Homo sapiens: one gene and its partners. The protein of the gene in region 1 purifies or fractionates together with the protein of each later gene. This does not show direct contact. Each region holds a gene or a part of one and is shown on either strand. Other genes may lie near its edges. The genes, in order: PTPRO, PDIA6, MAN1B1 and DNAJC16.

Evidence for each region.
Region 2: the proteins of PTPRO (region 1) and PDIA6 purify together in Homo sapiens (affinity purification with mass spectrometry, with the first as the bait; 2 studies listed by BioGRID). This does not show direct contact.
Region 3: the proteins of PTPRO (region 1) and MAN1B1 purify together in Homo sapiens (affinity purification with mass spectrometry, with the first as the bait; 2 studies listed by BioGRID). This does not show direct contact.
Region 4: the proteins of PTPRO (region 1) and DNAJC16 purify together in Homo sapiens (affinity purification with mass spectrometry, with the first as the bait; 2 studies listed by BioGRID). This does not show direct contact.

What each region holds. Positions count from the first base shown.
Region 1 is NC_000012.12:15,317,992-15,325,532, reverse strand, and holds the start of PTPRO (receptor-type tyrosine-protein phosphatase O isoform a precursor), read right to left. Parts: upstream 3,026-7,541; 5' UTR 2,807-3,025; coding exon 2,732-2,806; exon of another isoform or gene 1,684-2,731; intron 1-1,683.
Region 2 is NC_000002.12:10,782,891-10,788,810, reverse strand, and holds the end of PDIA6 (protein disulfide-isomerase A6 isoform d precursor), read left to right. Parts: intron 1-41; coding exon 42-114; intron 115-1,371; coding exon 1,372-1,530; intron 1,531-3,700; exon of another isoform or gene 3,701-3,780; coding exon 3,781-3,877; exon of another isoform or gene 3,878-4,484; coding exon 4,485-4,553; 3' UTR 4,554-5,420; downstream 5,421-5,920. UniProt on the Homo sapiens protein: May function as a chaperone that inhibits aggregation of misfolded proteins. Negatively regulates the unfolded protein response (UPR) through binding to UPR sensors such as ERN1, which in turn inactivates ERN1 signaling.
Region 3 is NC_000009.12:137,096,975-137,103,999, forward strand, and holds part of MAN1B1 (endoplasmic reticulum mannosyl-oligosaccharide 1,2-alpha-mannosidase), read left to right. Parts: intron 1-853; coding exon 854-963; intron 964-2,721; coding exon 2,722-2,907; intron 2,908-4,030; coding exon 4,031-4,179; intron 4,180-4,509; coding exon 4,510-4,698; intron 4,699-4,704; exon of another isoform or gene 4,705-4,782; coding exon of another isoform or gene 4,783-7,025. Other genes in the region: uncharacterized protein LOC124902313, read left to right, coding at 4,783-5,765, 5,802-7,025. UniProt on the Homo sapiens protein: Involved in glycoprotein quality control targeting of misfolded glycoproteins for degradation.
Region 4 is NC_000001.11:15,521,935-15,529,858, forward strand, and holds the start of DNAJC16 (dnaJ homolog subfamily C member 16 isoform 1 precursor), read left to right. Parts: upstream 1-4,913; 5' UTR 4,914-5,024; intron 5,025-7,153; 5' UTR 7,154-7,171; coding exon 7,172-7,338; intron 7,339-7,924. Other genes in the region: CASP9 (caspase-9), read right to left, coding at 2,135-2,266. UniProt on the Homo sapiens protein: Plays an important role in regulating the size of autophagosomes during the formation process.

The DNA of each region.
Region 1 (7,541 bases):
ATTGATATAAAAATAAAAATTTTCATAACCAACATTGTGTTTAGGCAAGATAAATTATGCAGATATTAGCTTCATAATGTGCAGTGAATGATTTAGACAGTCTGAGATGCCCGATTATATGTGCTCATCACTGCTCCATGGATAAGGAACGATGGCACAAAGACCTTCTTGGCCAGTCACATTTAGTCTCCCTCAATGGAACTGATTATAGCCATTCATACACATTCAAACTTTCCTACTTTTCCACCACTGATATCCAGCTGCTTATTTTTGAGTTGTGGAAAATGTAAAGCTGTAAATTAAGCCTCATACTTGAATTTCTCTGTCTTATTTTCCTTCAGAATTTTCACTCTTATATAAAGGATACACATATGGAGTAGTGAAAAATGTATTAACTATAGTGAAAACTATGGAAATTATTTTGGCAAGGGAGAGTTGAGAGAATGTTTCATTTCTGACTCGGCACACGTGGAACATTTTGGATTTTATTATTGAGATACAGTTAGCAGTTTGGTATTTAATAATGAATTTTTTCTCATCCTCCAGTCACAACCTGCTTGAGTAGATCTGTTTTACTGGCACTTAATCAGGACCTTTAATTCAAAAATATCTCCAAATTATAAAGAGATTATACCATGTGCCCAACGCACCATGTAATATACTATCCTCTAAATGTAAGATATTACACTGTGTGCCCAATTTACCATTTTTTTTGAACAACTCTTGTCAACTGCAGCAAAATAGGATTAAATGAAATAACGTATGTAAAATGCCTAAAAAACCAGCACATAGAAGGTATTTAATATATACAGTTTTTTCTTCTTTCCTCTGATATAGTTTATATTCAGGTGACAAAAATATTACATTCACATAAAATAAAGGAAAATGATTTTTCTTACAAAATTATGTGTCCCACTACAATAATTATTATTTAAATGGCAAACTTTGCCAATGTATTTACTATGGAAGCAGTTTGCCATAATTTACATTTACCTGCAATGTTCAGGAATATACCTATTATGTGAAGCAGGCTGGACCTCTATGACAATCACTAACATTTTCATTACACCATCACTAACTGCATTTTCTCATTCCAATATCGAGTTTTAAGTCAAACAATGGCCACATTTATTTTATTTTAATTGCAAAACCTTACCCCCACTCCCAACCAAGTCATTCTCTTATTTCTGGAATTATCTCATTATGAAGAACTCACGCAAAAACCTGCAGTTGTGCTAAACGTTAGGTTTGGATCAGATGTCATACATATAACTCTTAGCTGTTGCTCGTAAAATGCATAGTGACTTGGTTTCTAATTTTTGGTTCATGACAATTATTGCATAGGTAAAATAGTTGTGACAGTTTGATAAATAGTTAGAAAACGACTAATAGACAACCTAATAAGTCTAATGCATTTATGATGTGTATGAAAGAACAACCTCCTACAGTAAAAACATATAACTGAGCTTATTATTTACCATACTTTAAAATTAATGATTATTGATAATTTAAGAAAAAATGTTAAAACATATTAAATATATTTTAAGGTCTTACTTAGGCATTCTGTTGCTGTTTCTCCCTGAATTTTTTTTATATTTTTCATTAAGATAAATGAAAATATGGAGTATTTAAAAGTAATGCTGTTCTTAATCCATTGGTCCTGTTCCATTATATTCTTTTTAGGCATTCATAATTAATGGTGCATATAAGCAAGAAGTGACTCTATAATAAGAAAACCTTTGGATCCATTAACCTGGCATCCATTTCTAGGGAAGGTATCACTGTGGTCCTGAAAGGATAGCTCCAAGTCACCTGTCGACATTCTTGAGTTTGCTTTGCGGAGAGAGGAAAAGACTAACAACAGAACTAAAGTAGATCCACTGAAGACATGAGTGATAGACAATCACTTCAGAACTTCACATCGCCGTCCAAGAAAACATCTAGCTGACATTTCTTCAAAAAAATTTATGTACAGTATAGTTGTCAAACTGATTTTTCAAAAGCAACTCCTTTGCTTTTCATTTTTCTCAAAGTAAAACCTCAGGGTAGCACATTCCAAAGAAGATACGAAAAAGTTTATTATTATATATTTTTCCACCATTAAATCTAGGGGTAATATCATCTGTAAATATAGTGGAGAAAGTCTGGAGACTTTTTAAAAGGAATTGTAAAGATGTTGATAGGAGTTGGGGAGAGGAATCCTTACCAAGCTCTCTACCTGACACTCCTTATTCAAAGAAAATTCTGCCCTAACGTAGCCCTGGCAGTCCATTTGTGTCCAGGGAGCTCAGTCCCCCTCCACTCTCCAGTGTATAATTCCAGCAGTAAGGAAAATTAAGACAAAGCATTCTGTGCGAGGGAGGGCGGAAAGGTTAAGCAGCGTTGGGGTGCAGTGGAAACCAGAAAAGAAAGTGACCTCATTTTGCCTGAGAAAGCACGATCCAACAAGCCCACCTTTGATGTGGATTTCAGCAGCGATAAAAGAGCACAAAGGGCGAAAGCCGGAGGGAGCAAACTTCCCTTATTCTTCCCCCCGCCCCCTACCTCTCAAGACCACCAGGAACACGCACACGCGAGGACAACAAAGCGTGCGCCCAGGCTGCACGGCAGGCGCTTCCCGCGGCTGGGCCATCGTGCCCTGGGGCGCGCCGCTCCCAACGGCAGAGCGAGGGCGCCGGAGCGCGGCTGCCGCCCGGACCGCTGGGAAAAAGGGGTGGAGGAGCTCCCCTACCTTGAACAGCACAAAGAGCCAGAGCAGAGGCAGGAGGCGGCGGGCGCCGTGTATCCCCGTGGGCAGGTGCCCCATCGCTGCGCGGACGGGGACTCGGGGGCACGGCTGCGCTAGCGGACTCCCCCGGCGGCGGCTCACAATGGCGAACTGGGGCTGCAGCCTCAGACCCTGGGCGCCGAGGTTGCTCCTGGCGAGCGCATGCTGCCTTTCCAGTCCCCCTGCGCCTGCTCCCTTTCCTCCTCTGCGCCCGGGGTCCTCCAAGAACGTGCCAGGCGCTGCTGTTCTTTAATGACTAAGGATGGAGAGGGTGGGGATTGGAGTGGGCGAGGCTCTGCCGCCGCCACCACCGCGGCTGCCAGAGGAGGCGCGGGGTCTGTGTGGTGAGCGAGAGGCGGGGACCCCGCGCCCAGCCCGCCGTAGTCCTCTGGCAGCAGGGACACTCTCACTCTGGCTGCCGACCCATAAAATGACAGCAGCCTCCCAACCCTCCACCAGGATCGGCCCGCTGCTTGCTACTGCTGGACAGCCCCCATTGCAGACTCCGCCTCAACCCCTCCCTCAATCTCTGGGTCTCAGGAGTTCTGAGGGGTTTCCCTGACCTCTCTTGAGCAATCCAGGCGCCAGATCCCAGTTCCCTCTCAATCTTCCTACATCTGTACTCAATTGCAGTTATAAAGGATCAATAACAGTTGGGTAGTTGTGACTGTAGAAATAGTGTGTAGTGTGAGTGTGTGAGTGTGTGTGATAGGAAGGGTATTTTCTCTCCTTCCCCACTGCTTCCATTATCTCCATCCCATTTCAACACTCTCACCGTCTCCGTCCCACACTCACCCAGGAACAAATAGCACAATTATGCACCTTTTCCATTTGAAATCCGCAGTTCTTGTACATTTCAGATTCTCTTTTGATACCAAAGTGTGTCGGGTCACCTGAAGCTGAATATAGAAGGGGGAAAAATCACAGTATTTTACATGTATGACCCTTGAACAACACGGGTTTGAACTGTTGGGTCCAGTTATATGCAGATTTTCTTCCACCTTTGCCAGCCTTGAGACAGCAAGACCAAACCCTCTTCCTCCTCCTCTGCCTGCTCAGCCTGAAAAGGATGACGTTAAAGACTTTTATGATAATTCACTTCCACTCAATGAATATAAATGTATTTTCTCCTCTTTATGGTTTTCTTAATAATATTTTCTGTTCTCTAGCGTACTTTATTGTAAGAATACAGTATACAATACATACAACACAAAATGTGTGTTAATCAACTGTTTATTATGTTATCAGTAAGGTTTCCGGTCAAGAGTAGGCTATTAGTAGTTAAGGTTTTGATGAGTTCAAAGTTATATGTGGATTTTCAACTACGTGATTCTCTGTGTTGTCCAAGTGTCAACGGTATGTACAGTTATATTTTTAAACAATTATCTGTGAATAATTTTACTGGGATGTTTTAGAATCACAAGCAACGACTTTCAAGCTGTGGGTCCCCAATCTACTACTTGTCTCCTTTTTTGTTATGTGTATTTTTTTAAAGATAAGTCTGTCGAAATCAACTCTGGTATGCACTGTTCAGATAGAAATCATTTCTTATTGTCATGTAAATTACCCTTGCTGTGCCCTGTCAGTATTGGAACTTATTTATACCTGAGACATGCTTGGGCAACAGGAGACAGGAAAGGCCACCCTGGTCATGAATGTAGGTGTTCAGGCATAGACTTTGTCAGTCACACAGCTAGGGAGTGGTGGCCTGAGAAAAGGATCCAGAGCTGTGTTTACTCAGCTTTTGCTGCATGAGCAATGGCCAAACACTAATCATTTGGTTGTTGTTTGTATGTGTCTTAAGGAAGCTTTAGATTGAATATGTTTACATAAGTGTGAATATGTATATATACACATGTGTACATGTACACATATGTGTACATGTACATATGTGTACACACATGTGTGTGCATGTACATATGTGTACACATATGTGTGTGCATGTACATATGTGTGTACACATATGTGTATGTGTGTACATAGATACATATGTGTATGCATACGTATATGTATATGTACGCATATGTATATGCATGGTACATATATGTATATATGTACCAAATTTCATATGCATGAAATATGTACCAAAATTCATATGCATGAAAATATAGAATGATGGTCTGAATTTTTGTGAGAATATTATCCTTGGTGTCTTCTTTTAGAAGCTTCTTTTGTTTTCACATTCCCATCACATGCTCTCTTCAGGTCCCTCATGTCCACTCATCATTGGTTTGGACATTTTCTTTCTTTTGAGAAAATGTTAACTGCTCCTCCCTCCCTCTGGGTTAGACTTACGGGCTATCTGAACATTTAATCCTTGGGATTGCACTTATAGGAACTTTGGTTTAATATGTTTTCTTTTTATTTTGACGCTCCTGAAGCAGCATTTTATTCCCACTCGCCCTCAGAAGTGGCTGTAAAGTGATCTAATCTCTAGAACATAAGATATATATAGGCCAAGGGCAACAATCACACTCACAGGATGCCAACAATTTCTCTTTGGAGTAGCATTTAATTTTAAAATGTGTCTGTGAATTATGGGTCTGTATGATGATATTCATTTGTGTGTATGCATATGTCTGTGTGTATACATGGATATAGCCTTGCCTGATGTGCGTAGGGCGTTTAAAGCAGTTCTGATCATAAATTAATCTTGTAAATGCTAAAAGAACTTTCACAATGAGGCTCCCTTTTAAATAATCATATTCTGCTGCGTCTTTCTGTTTTTCTCTTAGTCATACATCACAATTTGTTCAGCTCTTTCTGTCTTTGTGCATATATATATATATGTATATATATATATATATATATATATATTATGTGGACCACTTTGGAGGAACAATAACAGTAAACAGTAAGTAGTAAAGCATTAGTAATTGGCATTGTTGTTATTTTATTAGTAACATTGTGGTTAGATGGGCTGAAGACTGAAAGTATTATTTTATAATCACAGAAAATTTCCTCTCTAGAGAAAAGTATTTTACATTGCTATTGCTGGATAAAATACTTTCATTTGTTTTTATTGCACTTAAACCATAACAGTGTCCTAGAAGAGATTCTCATAAAGAATGTGAATGCTGTGTCATCCACAGTGTGGGGTTTTCAATTCATAGAGCATGTTTTGTGTTTCTTTGAGCTATTGACTGGTTTTTCAATACAATACTTCCAAAGTATGATAAATCTTATTATGCTATTTTCAAGACTCCAAATCAACAAAACAGCCAGGGGCAACATACAGTGCATATAGTAATTTATGTTTCACCAATTGCTTCTACATATTGGTCCAGATTTCATTATGACAACCACATTGTTAGGTAAAGAAGGCTGAGATCATTATCACCAACTGTTTTCCCCTAATGCTACTTTTCCTGGAGAAAAAATAAACACAGAAAAATAATAATATCTCTGACATGCCATAAAACAAGCATTGAAAAATAAGTTCTCACAAATTGAAATAAAGCTCTCTACTTCCTTTGAAAATTATAAAAAGGTGGTTAATGATCATGAAACTGGAAGGTCTTTTTAAAATCTATAGGAGGCTTAGTTTTTACCAAGAAAAGCGATCTTTTCCTAAATATGTAGAAATGTATCTTTGCCTACGTGGTTCACATCTATCTCTTCTATAGAAAAGCAAGCGCAGACACAGAGAAGCAGCTAGAATCCCTGTGAGAGGTTTAATGAGGAGTCAAATGGAACTCTTACGGTGCCCTTGCCAATGAAGCTCAATTCTGTCCTCCAGGGACAACCTCTAATGTAGTTGAGTGTGTTTAGTCCTGGCTTCCACTACTGAAATAGCCTACAAGGCTGTCAGCAGTTTCAGTATTAGATAATTGTATTTATGGGGGATGCTCAATGACAAATAATTTACTTTATATGGAATAGAAAGAAAAATTCAAGCAATTGTTCTCTAGACTCTATTCCATTGGAAAAGTAATAGCCATTCAGTTTGTTGTCCATATCTCACATGTTACAATTTTTATAGCATATGAACTGTAGATTATCTGTATTAAGCTCTTGGAAGAAAATGACCAGGAAGCATTTTGATTTTCTATTTATTTGAGCATTTGTTTTAATTTTTTCTCTTGATGAGCACTGGTTTCTCACCTAAATGATGTGTTGACAATTCATAAGTTTTGTGTCTTTCAAAATGAGAACGATTGACAGCCCTCAGGTGAATGGCATGTTCCAACTGCCAAGACTTATTACTCTTGCTGCACTTGAAAAACAGTGGAAATACGCTAAAGAAGGTCATTTTTGCTTTTACTTGGAGAGTCTTTTCCCATTATATTCCCCTCTCCCGCCGCAAAAGATTCCTATTAAGAGACCTATCTTACTTGTACTTGACTCTTACATGTCTTAAAGAAAATCAAATAAGAATATTGCATTACAAGATATGTCTTACAACACAAAATTATATACTTAAAGAAATAAGGAAACATACATAGAAAGTGTGAGCAGATATGCAGATATATATCACTGGACACAAATTACAGGCTATAGGATAAACAGCCCTACATTAGAAATGCAGATTGTCGTGTTTTTAGATATTATACCTTCATTCAGTCATATACTAGGATTCTGTTTGTTGCTAGCATTTCATTTAATTGCTCTAAAACTTTAATAAAAGGCATTAGCCTTAAGTTATATGATTTTATCTCATATTTTATTTATATGAAATGCCTTGACTAATGAACTTCTAAAATATTTTTTCTGAATGTTCCAGACATTGCTATCATTTACTAATTTAGCTTTTCTTCATAACTAGGTTTTTTGG
Region 2 (5,920 bases), on another chromosome or scaffold:
CTTTATCTTTACCTTTAAAAAACTTTGTCTATTTAAATCAGGAGCTGCAGGCAGAAATTCTTATCTGGAAGTTCTTCTGAAGTTGGCAGACAAATACAAAAAGAAAATGTGGGGGTAAGTTACTGAGCTTACTGTCTGAGTGTCATCTGAACAGCTGATTATAGGCTTTCTTGAGAGTGGTTCCCCCGTGTTTTTGTAAGCTGTGTTCTATGTTTGCTCTGCTATATGTTTTTTTTTTTTTTCCCTCCTGCCTCAGCCTCCCAAGTAGCTGGGATTATAGGCGCCCGCCACCACACCCAGCTAATTTTTGTATTTTTAGTAGGGTCAGGGTTTCACCATGTTGTCTAGGCTGGTCTCAAAACTCCTGACCTCAAGTGATCCACCTGCCTCCACCTCCCAAAGTCCTGGGATTACAGGTGTAAGCCACCGCACCCGGCCTGCTCTGCTATATGTTTTTATTCAGGATGTGAAAACTTTATCATGGGAGGAAAAGAAGGAATGAAGGGCTGTCAGCACAGCATGCATTTTTCTCATAGGAATCATGTTTTACATGGTGATTGGAGTGCCAGGTTAGCAGGCAGACACATAAGGAGTAGTGCACCTGAATTCTACTGTGAACTTGAAGGCTGGGTGAGAAAGGGGAAATAGAATTGTTTCCTTCTCCTCTTCTGAGTTAAGGACTGGATCTAGGCACATTTTCAAAACAGTGTATCTCTTTCCTATTTTATCCTTTTTTTTTTTTTTTGAGACAGAGTCTCACTCTCTTGCCCAGGGTGGAGTGCAGTGGCACAATCTCGGCTTACTGCAACCTCCGCCTCCCGGGTTCAAAAGATCCTCCTGCCTTAGCCTCCTGCGTAGCTGGGACTACAGGCGCACGCCACCATGCCCGGCTAATTTTTGTGATTTTAGTAGAGATGGGGTTTGCACCATATTGGTCAGGCTGGTCTCGAACTCCTGACCTCAGGTGATCCACCTATCTTGGCCTCCCAAAGTGCTGGGATCACAGGCGTGAGCCACCGTGCCCAGCCTCCTTCCTATTTATCTTTTTGCTTCTTGTCCTCAGTATCCATTGCTTTCCCCAGGTACCTAGCGCCCCCTGTTGTCCCTCTCTCGATGACCTTGCTCCTCCTCCATTAGTCCAGCAAATGTTTATTAGATGCCTACAGAACGCGAGAACATGCTTAATAACCCAAATGATATTGGTGGGATTTCAGGTAAAAAGGGAAAATCCATATAGAAACTCATCTTTTGTTTTTATTTGTCATTCTACGAAATATCTGAAGCGTGATCTTTTGTTCTCTAAGATCTTCTAGTTAGATCGTAAGCAATTTAAAAGACATATTTGCCCTAAAAACCAGTCTGGTTTTCTAGGTGGCTGTGGACAGAAGCTGGAGCCCAGTCTGAACTTGAGACCGCGTTGGGGATTGGAGGGTTTGGGTACCCCGCCATGGCCGCCATCAATGCACGCAAGATGAAATTTGCTCTGCTAAAAGGCTCCTTCAGTGAGCAAGGCATCAACGAGTTTCTCAGGTAATTTGTTTTCTTAGGTTGTTTGTTGTTTTGTCTGTTTGTTTGGTTCTGTTGTAGGTTTATATTTGGAACTAGGTATATATAAGCCAGGTAATAAATGGAATTTAAAATGCAAACTAATTCCAGAGAATTGAATGTTTATACATTAGAGTTTTTAAATTGTCTCCCTGTTCGTTCTTTTTTCCATGGAATACTCTGCTTGCGGGATGAGGAGAAAGCATTGCTACCCTCGGGCCGCCCTGTGTGCCATTCTGTGCATCTGGCCCTGGGCTCTTTCTCATTCTCATAAAGGTCTCATATGGGCTAGAGGCAGCCCTGTCTGTCCATCCTCACCCTCATATGCATTGTAATCTTGACCTTGGGGAAATGTGGTTTCCATTTCTGGGCACTTGGCTTTGGAATGTAGTTATTTATTTGAAAATGGGCGTACTTAAGTTACTCCAACAATGTGCAAACAACATGATAGGTTCTAAAACCAATATACAGAGCTGTCTACTCTGCTCTGCTATTCAGCTCACCTAATCATCTTTTAGGCAATACAGGGCATTGACCTAAAGAGGTTTTATTTCCCATTCTTGCTTTCTTCCGCGTTCATTTCTTAGCTGCTGTATAAGAGATGTTCAGCACACAAAAGGTAGTTGAGAGGCTTGTGTTGAATAATGAATAGGAAGAACAGTACATGAAAGCCTGCAGTGCTCTTGCTGCCAGTCTTCCTACTTGACACAGAAGTTTGTGTGCTGTGTGGAGACGTGTGTGTGTGCTGTGTGGAGAGTAGGGGCTCCAAAGTCAGGTGCCTCAGTCACAGCTCTGCCTTGAGTAGTGAAGTGGGAGGCATGGAGGAAGCCCTGTGAGATCAGCTGCTTCAGCCTCTGCCGGCGGGGGGCAGACTGTGGCTCCTTCCCTCCCAGCTCTCTCTCATTGTAGTTGGTTAATATGGTTAATGGGTGTTTTCTTTCCCCCCCACCCCCGAGACAGAGTCTTGCTGTGTCGTCCGGGCTGGCACGATCTCGGCTCACTGCAACCTCCACCTCCCGGGTTCAAGTGATTCTCCTGCCTCAGCCTCCTGAGTAGCTGGGATTACAGGCGCCTGCCACCACGCCCAGCTAATTTTTGTATTTTTAGTAGAGATGGGTTTTCACCAGGTTGGCCAGGCGGGTCTCAAACCCCTGACCTCAAGTGATCCACCCACCTCAGCCTCCCAAAATGCTGGGATTACAGGTGTGAGCCACCACGCCTGGCCAAGGGGGTGTTTTCATTAAGTTTGTGGGGCTGGGTGCGGTGGCTCACGCCTGTAATTCCAACACTTTGGGAGTCTGAGGCAGGCGGATCACTTGAGGCCAGGAGTTCGAGACCAGGCTGGCCACCACGGTGAGACCTTATGTCTACTAAAAATACAAAAAATAGGCCAGGTGTGGTGTTGTAGGCCTGCAGTCCTAGCTACTAGGGAGGCTGAGGCACACCCAGGAGGTGGACGTTGCAGTGAGCTGAGATCACACCACTGCACTCCAGCCTGGGCAAAAGAGTGTGACTTGGTCTCAAAGAAAAAGAAGTTTGTGGACTGCTTAAGTTTGTGATTGTCATAGAGTAGTATTTATTAAATCATGAAGTCAGAATGTGAATATATCTCCTGTAATTTTTTTTTCTAATAATAGGTTTGCTTATTCTAGCCCATTGGTGCCATAGATTGTTAGTCTAGCTCTATTATTCTATGAGTTGTTTGGTGAACTCTAAATATTTGTGCCCACAGTATTTCTGGCTCTGGTTTCCCAACAGCCAGATTACACCAGGTCTGGTATGTTTCAAGTACTGATGTTTATGCACATACGCACCCCGCTCTCTGCCAGCGCACTGGAACCAGTCGCCTCACTTCTGATATGCTCCCTCTGTACAGGTTCACAGCAGTCTTAGAAAGCTCGCAGGCAGCCCATGTTCTAGATCAACTTTGATAATTATTTATGTATTTAATTTGTATTTCAGCAAATGCTCTGCTATTTTTAAAAGCTTACTGATAGCAACTGACTTTATCTGATGCAGGGGGCTTAGTTGGGAATGTTGAATCTGGTTGTAATGTTGTCCGTGATTAAAAAGATAATGTCCTCAAGGTGTTTCTGAGGAATGTAGTGCAGCAAGAGAGAAGAAATGCCTCTGCATAAACAAAGTAGGCAGACTGTTATTTTTAAAGTTGTTTATTCTTCTGCACCAGCAGTCCATTGTAAATGTGTGTGTGTGTTTTGGTCATTTTTCCCTAAGGGAGCTCTCTTTTGGGCGTGGCTCCACGGCACCTGTAGGAGGCGGGGCTTTCCCTACCATCGTTGAGAGAGAGCCTTGGGACGGCAGGGATGGCGAGGTGAGTGCCCGGGAGGGAAGCTGTGCGGGCAGCAGTCCTGGTTTACTCTCTTGAGCCTGTGCATCTCTGCACCTGGAGTCAAGTCCTTCCCATCAGACCTCAGCCCTGGTGCACCCGTGGGCCTTTTAAGAGGTTCTTCTCTGAAGACCCTTCATCTTCCTTATCACAAGTTTAAGTGCTGCATGGCATTTGATACTCTTGACAGCCAAGATACATTTCAGTAGTAAGGTTGCTTTCCTGATTATTACCTTAAAGTGAACATTTAACCTGGAATTCATTTACTTTATCTTAGAAAAATAGAAAATGATAGCTTTGAAATTAGCACTTATTTCTGTACTGTTGTGTCCCACCCTCCTCAAAAGGACACGTTCAAGTGGCTTCCAGTGTTAAAATGGTGAGTGATGTGATGTTGAAATGTTTCACCTGAGTTCTGAGCTTTTCCATCCGTATAATCATAGGTACGAAGGTCAGGGTAGGAGTCAGACTGAGGAGAACCTGGATTGTAGCAGGAGTAGCTCCAGAGAGTCGCTCTTCCATAAAATGAGATGTTGACCTTCCAGGGTGTCCCCTTCTGCAGATCTAACAGTGGCTTTCTGTCGTCTCCCAGCTTCCCGTGGAGGATGACATTGACCTCAGTGATGTGGAGCTTGATGACTTAGGGAAAGATGAGTTGTGAGAGCCACAACAGAGGCTTCAGACCATTTTCTTTTCTTGGGAGCCAGTGGATTTTTCCAGCAGTGAAGGGACATTCTCTACACTCAGATGACTCTACCAGTGGCCTTTTAACCAAGAAGTAGTACTTGATTGGTCATTTGAAAACACTGCAACAGTGAACTTTTGCATCTCAAGAAAACATTGAAAAATTCTATGAATTGTTGTAGCCGGTGAATTGAGTCGTATTCTGTCACATAATATTTTGAAGAAAACTTGGCTGTCGAAACATTTTTCTCTCTGACTGCTGCTTGAATGTTCTTGGAGGCTGTTTCTTATGTATGGGTTTTTTTTAATGTGATCCCTTCATTTGAATATTAATGGCTTTTTCCATTAAAGAATAAAATATTTTGGACAATGCCGATAAATGTATGAAGTTAGTATCCACATCATAAATTCAGAGTGATGTTTAGCAGTAAATCAATATTTTGAAGTGATACACAGATGTCTTTCCTCCCCACAAACTTTTTTAAACAAAAAACAAGACCTCTTTTCTTTAGATGGTGCCACCTATGCCCACCACAACAGAGATTTTACATGGAAACCGGGCTCAGTGAGAACTGATTTCCTGCCCAATATTTGTCTTTGGGCTGTCTCTAGTGACTAATTATTAAGGAATCTAGCTGGTTATACAGTTCAAGGCTTTCTATGTTGTTAATGAACCTCAAAATAGCCGTTAAGACATGAAATACAGCAGCAGGTTACCAATGCGAACAGGTAGTTCGCATTTATGTAAAACATTCAGAAAATGAAGTTTTGAATTTGTTGGAACATTCAAAGGACTTGAGAGCATTTTATTGTAACTTAAAAAAATAAATACAACTGTCACTAACTTTTGTGAGCAATTTCTCTGAAAAAGATCTTAGTTCTGTAAGACATTTGAACCATTCTCTGGCTAAAGGAAAGAGGTGTCTGTAATAATCTGCACGAACATGAGACAGAGGTGCCAGCTGGCCTTTCTAGTCAAGAAGACTAAGGTCAATATGGAAGTAGACATAAGGAAAATAGTCTTGGTTATTGAGTTGCAGTCCCGGGATCTCCACAGATGCCTACAAAAGAAGACATGGTAATGCTCTAAGTGCATAAACTAGTTTCCTGTCTTATCCTTTTAGTTTTGAGGAAGCTCGCCAGGCACTGAGCGTACGTTCTGCTCTGCGTAGCTGTGGTCCACCCCTCCAACCCTCTCCTTGCTGTGCTTTAATGTGTATGACATGTAGATTTTCATAACAGGCTGACAGATAGTTTTGCTTTGTTTTGTTTTTGAGACAGTTTCTGTCACCCAGGCTGGACTCAGCTCACTGCCTGCCTCAGACTCCCAAGTAGCTGGGATTA
Region 3 (7,025 bases), on another chromosome or scaffold:
GAGGGCTGCTGTGCAGGAGTGGCCTGAGACAAGCGCTGTCCGCCGTGAGAGATGGGCTCCGAAGAAACGGGCCCAGAGGCCCTGAACTCAAGCGCGTGGTGAGAGGCGTGGACATGTGCATGTGAGGGGTCCTCACGGCCAGGAGGAGAATTTGAGGGCCACTGTGCTCTAGTTAGCGTTGGCATGAATGCAAGGACGCTTTACTTCCAGAGCAAAAGAGGATTTGACCTCAGCTTGTCAAAAGTGCCACGTTTGTACTCCCAGCATGTAAGCCATCTGTGGTTGTAAGAGGCCTTTTGCTGATCCTGGGACAGATTCACCACAGGGCCCCAAGAGAACGCTCGGGCCCAGCCACAGTTAGGAGGTTGCGCGGCAAACCCTCTACACAACCTCATAGCTGTTCCTGATGGCCATTGGACAGAACTCGATGGGGAGTTTGAGTGGCCATGCGTCTCGTGTGTAGGGACAGCCCCCGTCTGTGTGGCCATCCTGGCATCTTGGGGCCACCTCACTGTCACTAGTGCTCCTGTTTGGATGAAAGATTCTCTACTCCTCCACCATAGAGGCCCCCCGCCTCCGGCCTCTGCAGAGGGATTTCTCACGATTCTCCAAGCTCTGGTCTCTGACCTCAGGCCAGCCTTGACCCTGGAGCAGTGCTGTGGTCTTGGCTCTCAGGCACGGGAGCTCAGGACTGAACTGTGTGTTTCCTGCCACTCAGCAGCCTGCACCTCAGGATGATGGGGCCGCTTTGGGTGCAGGGCTGTGCCTTGGCCGTGGGTATGGAGCGTGGGGGTGGGAAACATGGAGCCACAAATGTTTGACGGCAGCTGACACCCTTCCTTCTCCCCCGAAGCTGGAGGGGAGCGGTGATCGAGCCTGAGCAGGGCACCGAGCTCCCTTCAAGAAGAGCAGAAGTGCCCACCAAGCCTCCCCTGCCACCGGCCAGGACACAGGGCACACCAGGTGAGGCCACACCTGCACCCCTTCCTCCCCGGGCGCTCAGGGGCTGGTGGCTGATGGGTGCAGGCTTCGTCTCAGCCATGGTGGGTGGCGCCCCCGCCCTGGTGTGCACCTTGCCCTTCAGCATCCCCCTGTTGTCTGAGTCCTCACAGGCTCTGCAACCTTGGTGACACCATGTGGCTCTTGGCCTGCTGTCCCTGAGCACATGGCTGCAGAAGAAGGTGTGTCTGAGAGGTTTGTGTCTGGGCCAGGCTGCCCCACGGGATCCCTGGAGACTGCTGCCCGTGCTGTGTCCCCTGTCTCGGCCTGGCCAGTCCCAGGCAGCTCTGGGGGCCACTTCATTCTCAGCACCGTTTGTTGGGGGCCTCCCAGGTGCGGGCCTTCGGCCAAGCTCAGTGCATGACCTGAGGCCTCTTTCAACCTCATGACACCCTCTGACACGATAAGCCACTCACCCTCCCGTTCTCCAGACTGAAAAGCAGGGCTGAGGACAGCCACCCCCAGAGTCGTTTGCTTGTCTGTGGGGGCTCATGGCAGGTCGCTGAGTCTGGAGCCCTGCTCTCATCATGCCCCCCAGGTGTCTCTGAGGTGGGGAGGGAGCCCAGAGCCAGGACTCCCAGCCCCGGGCCTGTGAGGGATGTGTAGCAATCTCTGCGGCATCAATGAGGGCAGAGGCAGAGGCAGAGGCATAGACATGCCATGAGCACAAGGAGGCCTCAGAACCTTTCCTGAGAGGACGTGTGGTTTGGTGCCGTTACACACGTGTCAATCCACACATTAGTCAATGTTGGCCGGGCGTGGTGGCTCACACTTGTAATCCCAGCACTTTGGGAGGCTGAGGTAGAAGGATCTCTTGAGTCCAGGAGTTCAAGACCAGCCTGGACAACACAGTGAGGCCCCATCTCTACAAAAAAAAAAGAAATTTATATATATGTGTATATTTGAGACAGAGTCTTGCTTTGTCACTTCACTGCAACGTCTGCCTTCTGGGTTCAAGCAAGTCTCCTGCCTCAGCCTCCCTAGTAGCTGGGATTATAGGCACCCGCCACCACACCTGGCTAATTTTTGTATTTTTAGTAGAGACGGGGTTTCGCGATGTTGGCGAGGCTGGTCTCAAACTTCTGACCTCAGGTGATCTGCCCACCTCGGCCTCCCAGAGTACTGGGATTACAGGCGGGAGCCACCGTGCCCAGCCAAAAAAATTTAAAAAAAGGGAACGAAGGGACTGTAGCGCGTGTGCACAGTGCGATTCCCGTGGAGCACCTGAAGCCCACGTGGCAGAAGGAGCGTGTTTGAGTCGAGGATGTTCATCGCGAGGTCTGCACCCGTCCGTGTTTCACATTCTGAGTTGGCACCACACTCACCCACGTCTCCACAGGCTGTGCTCACTGTGCTGTCCCAGCGCCCTTGGGGCAGCCACCCTTGTCCCTTTGGCCAGAGGCCACCGAGGCCCAAGGAGGGTGTGCCTGCCCAGGCGCCAGGTGGAGGTGCATGGGCCCCAGTCAGGTGGTCGGGTGACAGGTGCCATCCTGTGCAGTCTCCAGAGGTCTCAGGCCCTTGGCAGGCTGTGTTCTCCCTGGGGGCTGCTGCAGCCTCTGTGGCCCTGGCCTTTGCTGTGCCCACCACCGCCCTTCCCGTCGTCCCAAACCCACCGTCATCTTTGCCCCATGGGGGTCACAGCAGTGCTCTGCCTGAGGGTGTCCATCTGTGCCGACGCCAGGACCACGTCCGCCATGGCCTGTGCTCTCTCCCCCCTACTAGTGCATCTGAACTATCGCCAGAAGGGCGTGATTGACGTCTTCCTGCATGCATGGAAAGGATACCGCAAGTTTGCATGGGGCCATGACGAGCTGAAGCCTGTGTCCAGGTCCTTCAGTGAGTGGTTTGGCCTCGGTCTCACACTGATCGACGCGCTGGACACCATGTGGATCTTGGGTCTGAGGAAAGGTACCTGGTGCTTTCTGGGGAGGGGCTGAGCCCTCCGTGTGGGCCTCGTGTGCTGAGGCAGAGTGTGGGTTGCACACGGGGTGAAAGCTGCTGTTTGCATCTGACCATGGGTTTTCCCTTCTCCTGGGTGCGGGAGTGGACGTGTTGGCTGTGGTCAGTTCCTGTTCTTGTCCAGCCACCCAAGGCACACACAGGGCCGCTGTCCCCAGACCTCTGCAGGAGTTGAGTGTGGACTCTTTGGGGGACGTCCAAGGGACATTCCCAGGCTGTGCTTCTCTTGCAGCTGGGGGTGGTGGGATGAGTGACTGTGGGGCCCCGCTGGTCCCAGATCTCAGCAGCATCCTTCATAGACCAGCACATCCACTTTGAATTGGGAGTATGTGTCTTCGGTTATTTAAGCGATAATTTAAACATTTGCCTAATTTTTTGAATAGGTTGAAGACCACCAGTAAACGACGTGTGTAATTTTTTTGGGTCGTAGCCTTTGGTTGTGACCCATTGGTGGCCATAGCAACTGCACTGCTGACTCCGTTTTATTAACAAATGTTGACGACTTCAAGATTTACCCCCTTGAGATAGGAGGTGATATTGAAGCCCTGCAGGGGAACGATAACGCCCCAGACATGGGTTTGGTTTTTTGTTTTTGTTTTTTTGTTTTTGAGATGGAGTCTTTCACTGTCTCCTGGGCTGGAGTGCAATGGCGCAATCTCGGCTCATTGCAACCTTGGCCTCCTGGTTTCAAACGTGGGTTTTTTGGAGACAGAGTCTAGTGGTGTGGCCCAGGCTGGAGTGCAGTGGCACGATCTCAGTTCACTGCAGCCTTCGCCTCCCGGGTTCAAGCTATTCTCATGCCTCACCCTCCCCAGTAGTTGGGACCACAGGCATGCGCCACCATACTCAGCTAATTTTTGTGTTTTTAGTAGAGATGGGGTTTTCCCATGTTGTCCAGGCTGGTCTCTAACTCCTGGGCTCAAGCAATCCACTTGCCTCAGCCTCCCAAAGTGCTGGGATTACAGGCATGAGCCACCACGCCCAGCCAAATGTATTTTGAAGATGGATAGATAATAGGAAAACGTTGGAGCCATCCATTTGTCTCTGCATCCTTTACTGTTTTATGTCATAGAATTTGAGGAAGCCAGGAAGTGGGTGTCGAAGAAGTTACACTTTGAAAAGGACGTGGACGTCAACCTGTTTGAGAGCACGATCCGCATCCTGGGGGGGCTCCTGAGTGCCTACCACCTGTCTGGGGACAGCCTCTTCCTGAGGAAAGCTGTAAGTGTCTTGGGGTGTCCTGCAGGGAGATGGTGGACTCGCATTCAAGCAGTTACCCCTTTAGTGGACTTGTGGGGACGTGACTGTCTTCCTGTTTCCTCTTCAAATGCACTGGAGTCTGTTTCTGAGCTCATATTCGTGAGCTGATGAAGCCACTTTGATCACCACTGGCCTTGTAGAGACATTCACTCAGTGCAGAGTGATGCCCGTTTCCTTGCTGCTGTGTTGACCCCAGAGAGCCTTCAGTGTCTCCACTGAACTGCATGAAAGGGTGTAGACGAGGCCTCTGGGTGACCTGAACGTTGGTTCTCTACTCTGCTCATATACCAGGAGGATTTTGGAAATCGGCTAATGCCTGCCTTCAGAACACCATCCAAGATTCCTTACTCGGATGTGAACATCGGTACTGGAGTTGCCCACCCGCCACGGTGGACCTCCGACAGCACTGTGGCCGAGGTGACCAGCATTCAGCTGGAGTTCCGGGAGCTCTCCCGTCTCACAGGGGATAAGAAGTTTCAGGTAAGGGGGCAGGCTTTCTGGCTGGATGCGCCTCCCCTGGAGCTACCTTTTGCTCATCACAGCAGGTACTGTGTGTGTGTGTGTATGTGCATGTGTGTTTTCAGGTTTTTTACTGTGATAAAACACACAAAACGCACCACCTTAACCATTTCCAGGCGTGGTCGGTGGTGTTACATTCACGCTGTTGCAGGCGTGCAGGTCGGTGGTGTTACACACATTCACACTGTTGCAGGCGTGCAGGTCGGTGGTGTTACACACATTTGGGCTGTTGCAGGCGTACAGGTCAGTGGTGTTACACACATGCTGTTGCAGGAGTACAGGTCGGTGGTGTTACACACATTCATGCTGTTGCAGGCGTGCAGGTTGGTGCTGTTACACACATGCTGTTGCAGGAGTACAGGTCGGTGGTGTTACATGCTGTTGCAGGCGTGCAGGTCGGTGGTGTTACATTCACGCTGTTGCAGGCGTGCAGGTCGGTGCTGTTACACACATTCCTGCTGTTGCAGGAGTACAGGTCGGTGGTGTTACACGTGCTGTTGCAGGTGTGCAGGTCGGTGGTGGTACACACATTCATGCTGTTGCAGGAGTATAGGTCGGTGGTGTTACACACATTCACTGTTGCAGGCGTGCAGGTCGGTGGTGTTACACATTCACGCTGTTGCAGGCGTGCAGGTCGGTGGTGTTACATTCACGCTGTTGCAGACGTGCAGGTCAGTGCTGTTACACACGCTGTTGCAGGCGTGCAGGTTGGTGGTGTTACATTCACACTGTTGCAGGCGTGCAGGTCGGTGGTGTTACACACATTCATTCTGTTGCAGGCGTGCAGGTCAGTGTTACACACATTCACGCTGTTGCAGGCGTGCAGGTCGGTGGTGTTACACACATTCACGCTGTTGCAGATGTGCAGGTCGGTGCTGTTACATTCACGCTGTTGCAAGCGTGCAGGTCGGTGGTGTTACATTCACGCTGTTGCTGGCGTGCAGGTCGGTGGTGTTACACACATTCACACTGTTGCAGACATGCAGGTCGGTGCTGTTACACACATTCATGCTGTTGCAGGCGTGCAGGTCGGTGGTGTTACATTCACACTTGCAGGCGTGCAGGTCGGTGGTGTTACACACATTCATGCTGTTGCAGGCGTGCAGGTCGGTGGTGTTACACACATTCACACTGTTGCAGGCGTGCAGGTCGGTGGTGTTACATTCATGCTGTTGCAGGCGTGCAGGTCAGTGGTGTTACACACATTCACGCTGTTGCAGGCATGCAGGTCGGTGGTGTTACACACATTCACGCTTTTGCAGGCGTGCAGGTCGGTGGTCTTACATTCATACTGTTGCAGGCGTGCAGGTCGGTGGTGTTACATTCACACTGTTGCAGGCGTGCAGGTTGGTGTTACACACATTCACACTTGCAGGCGTGCAGGTCGGTGGTGTTACACACATGCTGTTGCAGGCGTGCAGGTCGGTGGTGTTACATTCACACTGTTGCAGGCGTGCAGGTCGGTGGTACACACATTCACACTGTTGCAGGCGTGCAGGTCGGTGGTGTTACACACATTCATGGTGTTGCAGGCGTGCAGGTCGGTGTTACACACATGCTGTTGCAGGCGTGCAGGTCGGTGGTACATTCATGCTGTTGCAGGCGTGCAGGTCGGTGGTGTTACACATTTTCACGCTGTTGCAGACGTGCAGGTCAGTGGTGTTACATTCATGCTGTTGCAGGCGTGCAGGTCGGTGGTGTTACATTCACGCTGGTGCAGGCATGCAGGTCGGTGGTGTTACACACAACGCTGTTGCAGGCGTGCAGGTCAGTGGTACACACATTCACGCTATTGCAGGCGTGCAGGCCGGTGGTGTTACATTCACGCTGTTGCAGGCGTGCAGGTTGGTGTTACACACATTCACACTTGCAGGCGTGCGGGTCGGTGGTGTTACACACATTCATGCTGTTGCAGGCGTGCAGGTCGGTGTTACACACATTCACACTTGCAGGCGTGCAGGTCGGTGGTGTTACACACATTCACACTGTTGCAGGCGTGCAGGTCCGTGGTGTTACACACATGCTGTTGCAGGCGTGCAGGTCGGTGGTGTTACATTCACACTGTTGCAGGTGTGCAGGTTGGTGTTACACACATTCACACTGTTGCAGGCTTGCAGGTCGGTGGTGTTACACACATTCACACTTGCAGGCGTGCAGGTCAGTGGTGTTACACACATTCATGCTGTTGCAGGCATGCAGGTCGGTAGTGTTACACATTCATGCTGTTGCAGGCGTGCAGGTCGGTGGTGTTGCACATTCATGCTGTTGCAGGCATGCAGGTCGGTGGT
Region 4 (7,924 bases), on another chromosome or scaffold:
GGCTACTGTTGGGAACAGCACAGACCTACAGTGCCACTGAGAAGGTAAGTCTCACTAGCAGAACAGTTGGCTACATGCAAATAGATGGTGGTGTTTAGGTTTCTCTCCACATTTGCTGAACACTCCAGGAGGTCAACACTGTGTTAAATGCATTGTTTCATCTTTTTCTCCCTCAATAACTTTATAGAGTTAAATTAGAACTTCCCAACTTTTTAGGGTAAAAAATTTCAGGGAAACTGAGTCATAGGGTTTTTCTGTTTGTTTGGCTCATTGGTTGTGGTTTTTTACAACTTGCTAATATGTAACAAGGCCAGGATGAGAGCCCAGATCCAACTGGTTCCAAAACCTGCCTGTTTTTCAGCCATACTGAATGGCAAAATGGCAACCTGTGGTTCCCACAAGGTTCTTAAAAAATTTCTGAATTTGTTGCTAACATTTTAAGCCAGGGAATTTGACAGAGGAATCAAGATTTTCAGCTTCTTTTTTAAGATGTGAAAGCTGGGCCGGGTACAGTGGCTCACACCTGTAATCCCAACACTGAGGCAGGAGAATCACTTGAGGCCAAGAGTTTGAGACTCATCTAGGCAACATAGCAAGACTCCTATCTGTACAAAAAAAAAATTTTTTTTAATTAGCCAGGCATGGTGGCATGTGCCTAAAGTCCCAGCTGCTCTAAAGGCTGAGGCAGGAAGACCACTTAAGCCCAGGAGGTCAAGGTCGCAGTGAGCCATGATCTCATCCCTGCACTCCAGGCTGGGCAAGAGTGAGACCCTGCCTCAAAATAAGTGTAAGATGTGGCAATACTGGGCCATTTGTTGATATGGCCATACTCAGCTGGAGACGGAGGGCAGTGCAAAGGCTATCCACTATGACGCCCATCCATTGGTCCTCCATGGGCATTTGAGTTTGTGATCCCCGTGAACATTCCTGAAGGCAAGGACTGTGGCCTCAAACCATTACTGTTCCCCAGTAGGGGCCACACAGAAGGCACAAAACTTATTTTATTATTAATGAATAATTACTCATATGATACTCAATTATTTAAAGACTCTTTCCCTGGGCCAGGGCACTGGCCAGGGATATCCAGCCAGCCACTCACACCTACTGCACCTCATGGTAGGAAATATCTCCTGCATCCTCACAGGCCTGTGATGAGGGTCAAATGAGACAAAGATGGGAAAGTGCTTTTAAACAAAACCTCAAATGTTTGACTTCATTATTCTCCATTCTGCATCAGGTCCCCTCATTTCCAAAACCTCTTAACAAAACATAAACTGAACACAGAAGGGGCTGGCCAAAGAGGGCAGGGTACGCTGATCCCCCGCTCTGTGCCTAGCACTACAGTTTCACATCCGTTATTTCATTTAGTCCTTATGACAGTATTATTCTTATTCCCATTTCACAGCCCAGAAACTGTGGCTCAAAGAGGGTAAGTGACTGGCCCAAGAACACGCTGCCAGGCAGCCTGATGCCAAAGTGGGTTCCCGAAACCTCTATGCTAGAAAAGTAAAAACGCACACGCCTCCTTCCTCGCAAGTATTAACGTAAATTAAAATGGAGACCAACCATGAAGAATTCCTGAGCAGACAAAACCAATCAGGTATCCTAAGTGACCTAAATCTTGCTTAAACTGCAAACATAAGCAAAATTTAACTTGGGTCATATCTGATAAATGCTTATGTTAGAGAGAAATAAAACTTAAGACCAGCCAAAAGCAGTCAATTAACAGACCTTAAAAAAAAAAGGCAATTTTGTAACTGCAAACCAATCAAATAATTTCTTTATTTTGCTTCCACATTTTCCCAATAAATACTTGCCTCTGACGTTTTGTCATTGCAACACTAAAGCTCTTTCAGTCTGATGTTCTCCAATTCATGAATTGTTTCTTATTCAAAGTTCTCAAGATGTGTCTCACATTTTTCCTTTACACAAGAAACACAAGCACTAACAGTGTACGCTGACTGAGTATGGCATGGAATCGCTTTAGCGAACACCCGACTAAGAGGTGTTTGGGATTCTTTGGCTCCGCTGAGGGGTTTGAAGCCACAGGGAAGGCTAGGCTCCCGCACAACGCCTCCTCGAGGGGCGTGGGGACCCGGCCGTGCAGCGCGGGGACAGGGGGCCGGGGGCGCACCTGGATGTCCTCGATCATATGGGGCCTGAACAGCTCGCGGCTCAGCAGGGCGTCCCAGAGCTGGTCCACCTGCAGCTCTTCCACCAGCCGCAGCCGGCACCGCCGCAGGAGCCGCCGATCCGCTTCGTCCATGGCGAGTAGCCAACTAAGACTCCAGGCCGCCTCAGTCCGCTTCCGGGCCTCGGCCGCCCGCCCCAGTCCCCAGGACCCGCCCCCGCCCCAGGGCCTGCCCCCGCGTCACGGCCCCGGGTCAGTCTTCGCTCCCCACCGCCTCCGGACGCATCTCCAAGGCCTCGCCCCGCCCCCAGGAGTCGCTCTTGCGTCACCGCCCCGCCCTCAGGACGCACCTCTGCGCCTCGCCCCGCCCCCAGGGCCAAGCCTCCCATCACCGCGCCGCCCCAGAACACGCTCCGCGTCACCGCCCCGCCCCAGAACCCGCCCCACGTCACCGCCCCGCTCCAGAATCCACCACTGCGTCCCCGCCCCAGAACCCGCCCCGTATCCCCGCACTGACCTCACGTCACCGCCCCGCCCCCGCGTTACCGTCCCGCCCGCAGGACGCATCTCCAACGCCTCGCCCCGCCCCAAGGATTCGCTCTTGCGTCACCGCCTCGCCTTCAGGACGCCTCCGCGCCTCGCCCTGTCCCCAGGGTCAATTCTGGGGTCACCGCCTGTCCCCAGAACCTGCCACCGCGTCACCGCCCACTCCCCGGGACGCATCTAGAAGGTCTCGCCCCGCCCCCAGGATTCGCTCTGCGTCATCGCCCCGCCCTCAGGACGCACCTCAGCGCCTCGCGCCGACCCCAGAATCCATTCCGCGCCACCGCCCCGCCCCCAGGATTCAACCCACGCCCCCACCCCGCCCCCAAGGTCAATCTTGCGCCACCGCCCCGCCCCCAAGGGCTAGCCTCGTGCCACCGCCCCGCCTCCAAGAGCCAATCCCCTCCCCTCGCTCCACCCTCAGAATCGTCCTTGCGTCACCGCTCAGCCTCAGACTCCAGTTCGCACTCTCGCCCCGCCCCCAAAGTCAATCCTCACCCCCAGGATCCATCCTTCTGTCACCGCCCCGCCCCAAGGCGGCACCTCCGCGACTCGCCCCGCCCCCAGGGCCCCGCCCCGCCCCCGCATCACCTCCCCACTCCGGGCGCAGGTGCCCTTTTGCAATTCTGGCACCAGTTCCTGGTCCACCGCGGGCCCTTCGCCAGAATTCACTATAGCCCCGCTTTTACAGAGATCCGGAGGGAGTCGTCACACTTCCAGCAAGAGGGAAACCATGAGTGGAGCCGTGATCTGTCCCGCCCATTCAACCTCCTCCGGGGCATGGCTTCCCCTTAGCCCCCTCCTCCACCCCAAGTAAAACCATAAGCTCCCCTCACCGCCCTTGTGCCCAGATCGCAGTTGACTGTTCCAAACTCGAGTGTCTGATCCAACCAAGCCCACCTTACACAGTCTTCCATTCCCTCTTCCCTCCCTCCCACCCTAACACCTCCCACACAGAAAAAAAAAAAAACGGCAGAAATCTAGTCCTGTAAACTCCCATCGTTCTGAACGGTTCATTTTCACATTTCAAAAATAATCGTTTCTGTTTACTGAGCATTTGCTAAGTCCCAGGCATCGTGCTAGCCACTTTTCATGCTTATTTCACTTATCCTTAACTACAATCCTGCCAGGAAAGTATTCCCACCCCCCGCCGGTTTTACAGATGTAGACCCTAGGGTTCAGGGAAACGAATGTTTAAGGTCACTTGGGTACTAAGTGGCCGAGGCAGGCAGGATTGAAACCCGAACCTGACTCTGTAAGCCACACTCTTAAGAATCCACCTTAGAATATAATCTCTTGAGCACCAAAACCTCAGCCCCATTCGTTCACTTCTACGAATATTTATTGAGCCTGTAGTCAAACACTAAGAACATGAAGGTGAACAAAACAAAATCCCTGCTTTTAGAGTTTACATTCCAGTGGAAGGATCAGGTGATAAACTATATCAATAAATAAGACATACTATGTTAGATAGTGATAAATGCAAAGAGAAAAAAATAAAAACAAGACAGGGAGATATGAAAGCTCTTTATATCCGCAAGGGATCTATCTCATTGGCTCAAAGAAAGTTTCCTTCACTTACCTGTGCCTTATCCCTCTCTCCACCCCCACCGCCCTTTCCCCGTGCTTAAGGCACAGACTGGTACATTCTTGGGTGGAGCTCGGTTTTCGGTAAACGGGATTAAAAGTCCTGGATTCTCTCAAAAAAAAAAAAGATAAGTAAACAAAAATAAAAGGAATGCTGGATTCTAGGCCTTGGGCAAATCTCTGCCCCTCTCTGGACCTCGGTCTCCCTATCAATATTGCAGGAGTTGGAGAGTTAAAGAATCCCTAAGGTCACTTCCAATCTGACGCTCTAAGGTTCTACGAATAGGGTTAAAGAGAATAGGGACCAGAGAGTGCGTCCCCATCCTAGCAACTGTTGCTAGACGAGGGCCATCTCCCGGTAGGAGCGGAAACACCTTCCTGGATCGAGGAGGTCCTTCTGGTATCCCATCATGCATAGCGACTTCGCCTCGCTAGGAGGCACGTTTTGGCCTCTTTGGTCACGATCAGCCTTTTGGCTGCAACCAAAGAGCGCGCCTCGTTTCTATAGCAACCACCCCAGGTCCACGCCTAGACGGCGAGTGGCAAGGGTCAAAATAGATTCGCCCAGTAGACGCCCTCGACCTGTTCGGTCCTCGCCTTCAGTGCGATAGACCTTTAAGCGTCACGTGACTCCCCTCGGGCTTGTCCCCTCCTCTTTCCCCTCCCCAGGCCCAGGCGAGCGCTGGTGTGGACGGGAAGCTCCCGGCCCGGCGAACTAACTGGAGCACGGAGCTGCAGCCGGTTGGGCCGGTGTACTTTCCCGGTAACTCCTTCCCGGCGTGACGCGCGGAACCGCGGACGCGGCGGGGCCAGGCCGACTCAGGGATTTCCCCTCAGTTCCTTCTCGTTTCCAGTCACTGCTGGCCCCGGGGGGAGCCGGGAGCCAACAGGGCCGGGCCCTGGGCTCTCGGAGGGCGGCGGGGGAGGGGGCTGTCTCCTGCAGGGTTGCGACCTCCGGCAGGAGCGCGAGGCGGGGCTTAGACCTGGAGCTTGTCTCTGGGAGCTTCTTCCTGGTCCTGGATATGCTGCCCAGAGAGCTGGCAGCCTACCTGTTGGGCAGGTGTTTGCTGCTCCGAGGTCGGCGCCGTCTATCTCGCATGTCAGCTAAAGAACTTCCCAGACCACCGCCACTTCGGCCCTCTAGCTGGAAGGAACTGACATGGTTAAATAAGGCAGCGATCGTACTGCATGGTAGAAATAATAGCACTAACGACCATTTGTTGACTGTTGACTCTGGGCTCAGTAAACCCTTTACATGCATTTAGTCCCCACATGATGATCCTTCAAGGTGGTAGTATTCATTCCCATTTTATGAATAAGGACGCTGATGCTTAGTAAGTTTAAATAATTTGCCCAAGGTAATAAAGTAGTGGAGAATAGATCCTAGTCTTCAACCCATATGCTTAACCAGTAGCTACATTGCCTTCACGTGTTTTCTAGGATATAATAGGTTGCCTTAACAAAGAAGAAACTGGTTTGTTTTAGGATTTTATTCAGCACGTATGCAATTTTAAACGTTGGTCATCAGATTAGTCAATTTTGTGAGGACTCCCAGGCGGCATTAAACTTGCACTTACGGAAATCCACCACTGTTATAGCTTTGCCCTTCTTCAGTAAGGTGTCACAGAAGACACTTGAACCTTAAAACTGTATTAACTTGTGAGAAATCAAGATAAATGTGTTCCTTGAAAAAAAACATTGTAGGGTATAACAGCAATCATAATTGTGGAGTATAAATATCTGCAGTTCCAGCACTACCCTGTTCATTAACCAGCCAGGATTATTTCCAAAATTCACAATGAATTAAGTCACTGTACTCACCAGAGATGGAGCTTGAAACTTTTAAAGACCACGCCTGCTATTTGGTCTTTGCCGTTAATTCTTCTTCACATGTAAAACTAAATTTTTTCTTGCCGCTTTTTCTCATCTGAGGTTTCCATTAATAATGACCATATTGGCCGGCGCGATGGCTCACGCCTGTAATCCCAACACTTTGGGAGGCCGAGGCGGGTGGATCACCTGAGGTCAGGAGTTCAAAACCAGCCTGGCCAACATGGTGAAACCCTGTCTCTACTAAAAATACAAAAAATTAGCTAGGCAGGGTGGCGCATGCCTGTAATCCCAGCTACTGGGGAGGCTGAGACAGGAGACTTGCTTGAACCTGGGAGGGGGAGGTTGCAGTGAGCTGAGATCCCATCATTGCACTCCAGCCTGGGCAACGAGTGAAACTCCGTCTCAAAAAAAAAAAACAAAAAAACACCATATTACTAATGATTAAAGAGCAGCTTCTCATTTTCTTGTTTGAATGGTGTGGTGAGAAAGAATAGAATTGAGGCATACTGCGTCTTAACTACACAGTTTTTTGAGAGTGTTTCACGTCCATGTTTGTACTTATTTAATGCCCAAGAATGCCACAACTATCTCATTTTGTAGTTTTGTACATGGTAAATCTTACAGTTTCATGAGTTTGTTTAACATGTACTCAATGAAGTATTCTTAAACCATTTATTTTATTTATTCTTATCAGAATAAATGAAATCATGTATTTGAGAGGTAGTCGTCCTGATTATCCTATTTAGGTTTTCTCTCATTTATGTATTATTTCTGCATCCCATTCATTTTCATTCATTTCTAAAGCTTTTCTAGTCAAAGTGTTCTGGAGAGTTGCTATTCTTATTACTCATCTTTTCATCTGTAATAGTTCTCATTTGTGATATTCAAAAGCAGTAGCGAGATTTTTATTTTAAGATACAGTTCAACAGCTTGACACTTTTCCTGCAAAATACCTTTTGTTGGTTTTGTTTTTCATCTATATATCTTATACCTTTACCTAAAAAGCAAGACTGTCCAGGTTTCTGCCACTGAAACTCATTGCCTCTTCAATCATTTCAGCTCTGGAAAGGAAGAGAAATGGAAGTGAGAAAGTTGAGCATTTCCTGGCAGTTCTTGATAGTTCTGGTTCTGATCCTGCAAATTCTGTCTGCGTTGGATTTTGACCCATACAGAGTCCTAGGGGTCAGCCGAACAGCCAGTCAGGCTGATATTAAAAAGGCTTATAAGAAGCTCGCCCGGGAATGGTAGGTGAAACAAAGAAATAGAGGTTTAACATAAGCTAAACAGTCTTAGCAGGGATGAAGTCTAAATTATGACTAGCTTTTATTTGTCTCTGTTTCTATGTTCAATATATATATCTGTCTAAAATATTTTACGCAGGAGAGCTAATGTTCATGTTCTATAATTGTTAGCGATAAGATCCAAAGCCTATGTTTACTCTGAAACTCCCTTTTAGGAATACTTTGGCTTAAAGAATTGCCTTAGATACTGTTAGCATATTTAATGTTAAAGTAACAAGTTTTAATTTTAAAAAAATGTATATATAGTCAATAATGGATATGCTACCCTTCCCATGATACATTATTCATAAAGTAACTTTATGAGTGTAATTGCTAAACAGGAACACTATACAACCCTATTCTCTAAATTATTAATTTCTACACTTTGAAAAAAAGTTAAGAGTAATAGCCTTTTGCCTCCAAAAAAAAAAATTCAGAAACCAAGGATAGTTGTCTCTTGATATCCATGAGGTCTTGGTTCCAGGATCCCCAGAAATACCAAAGTCATTGGATGCTCAAGTCCCTATATAAAATAGCATAGTATTTGCAT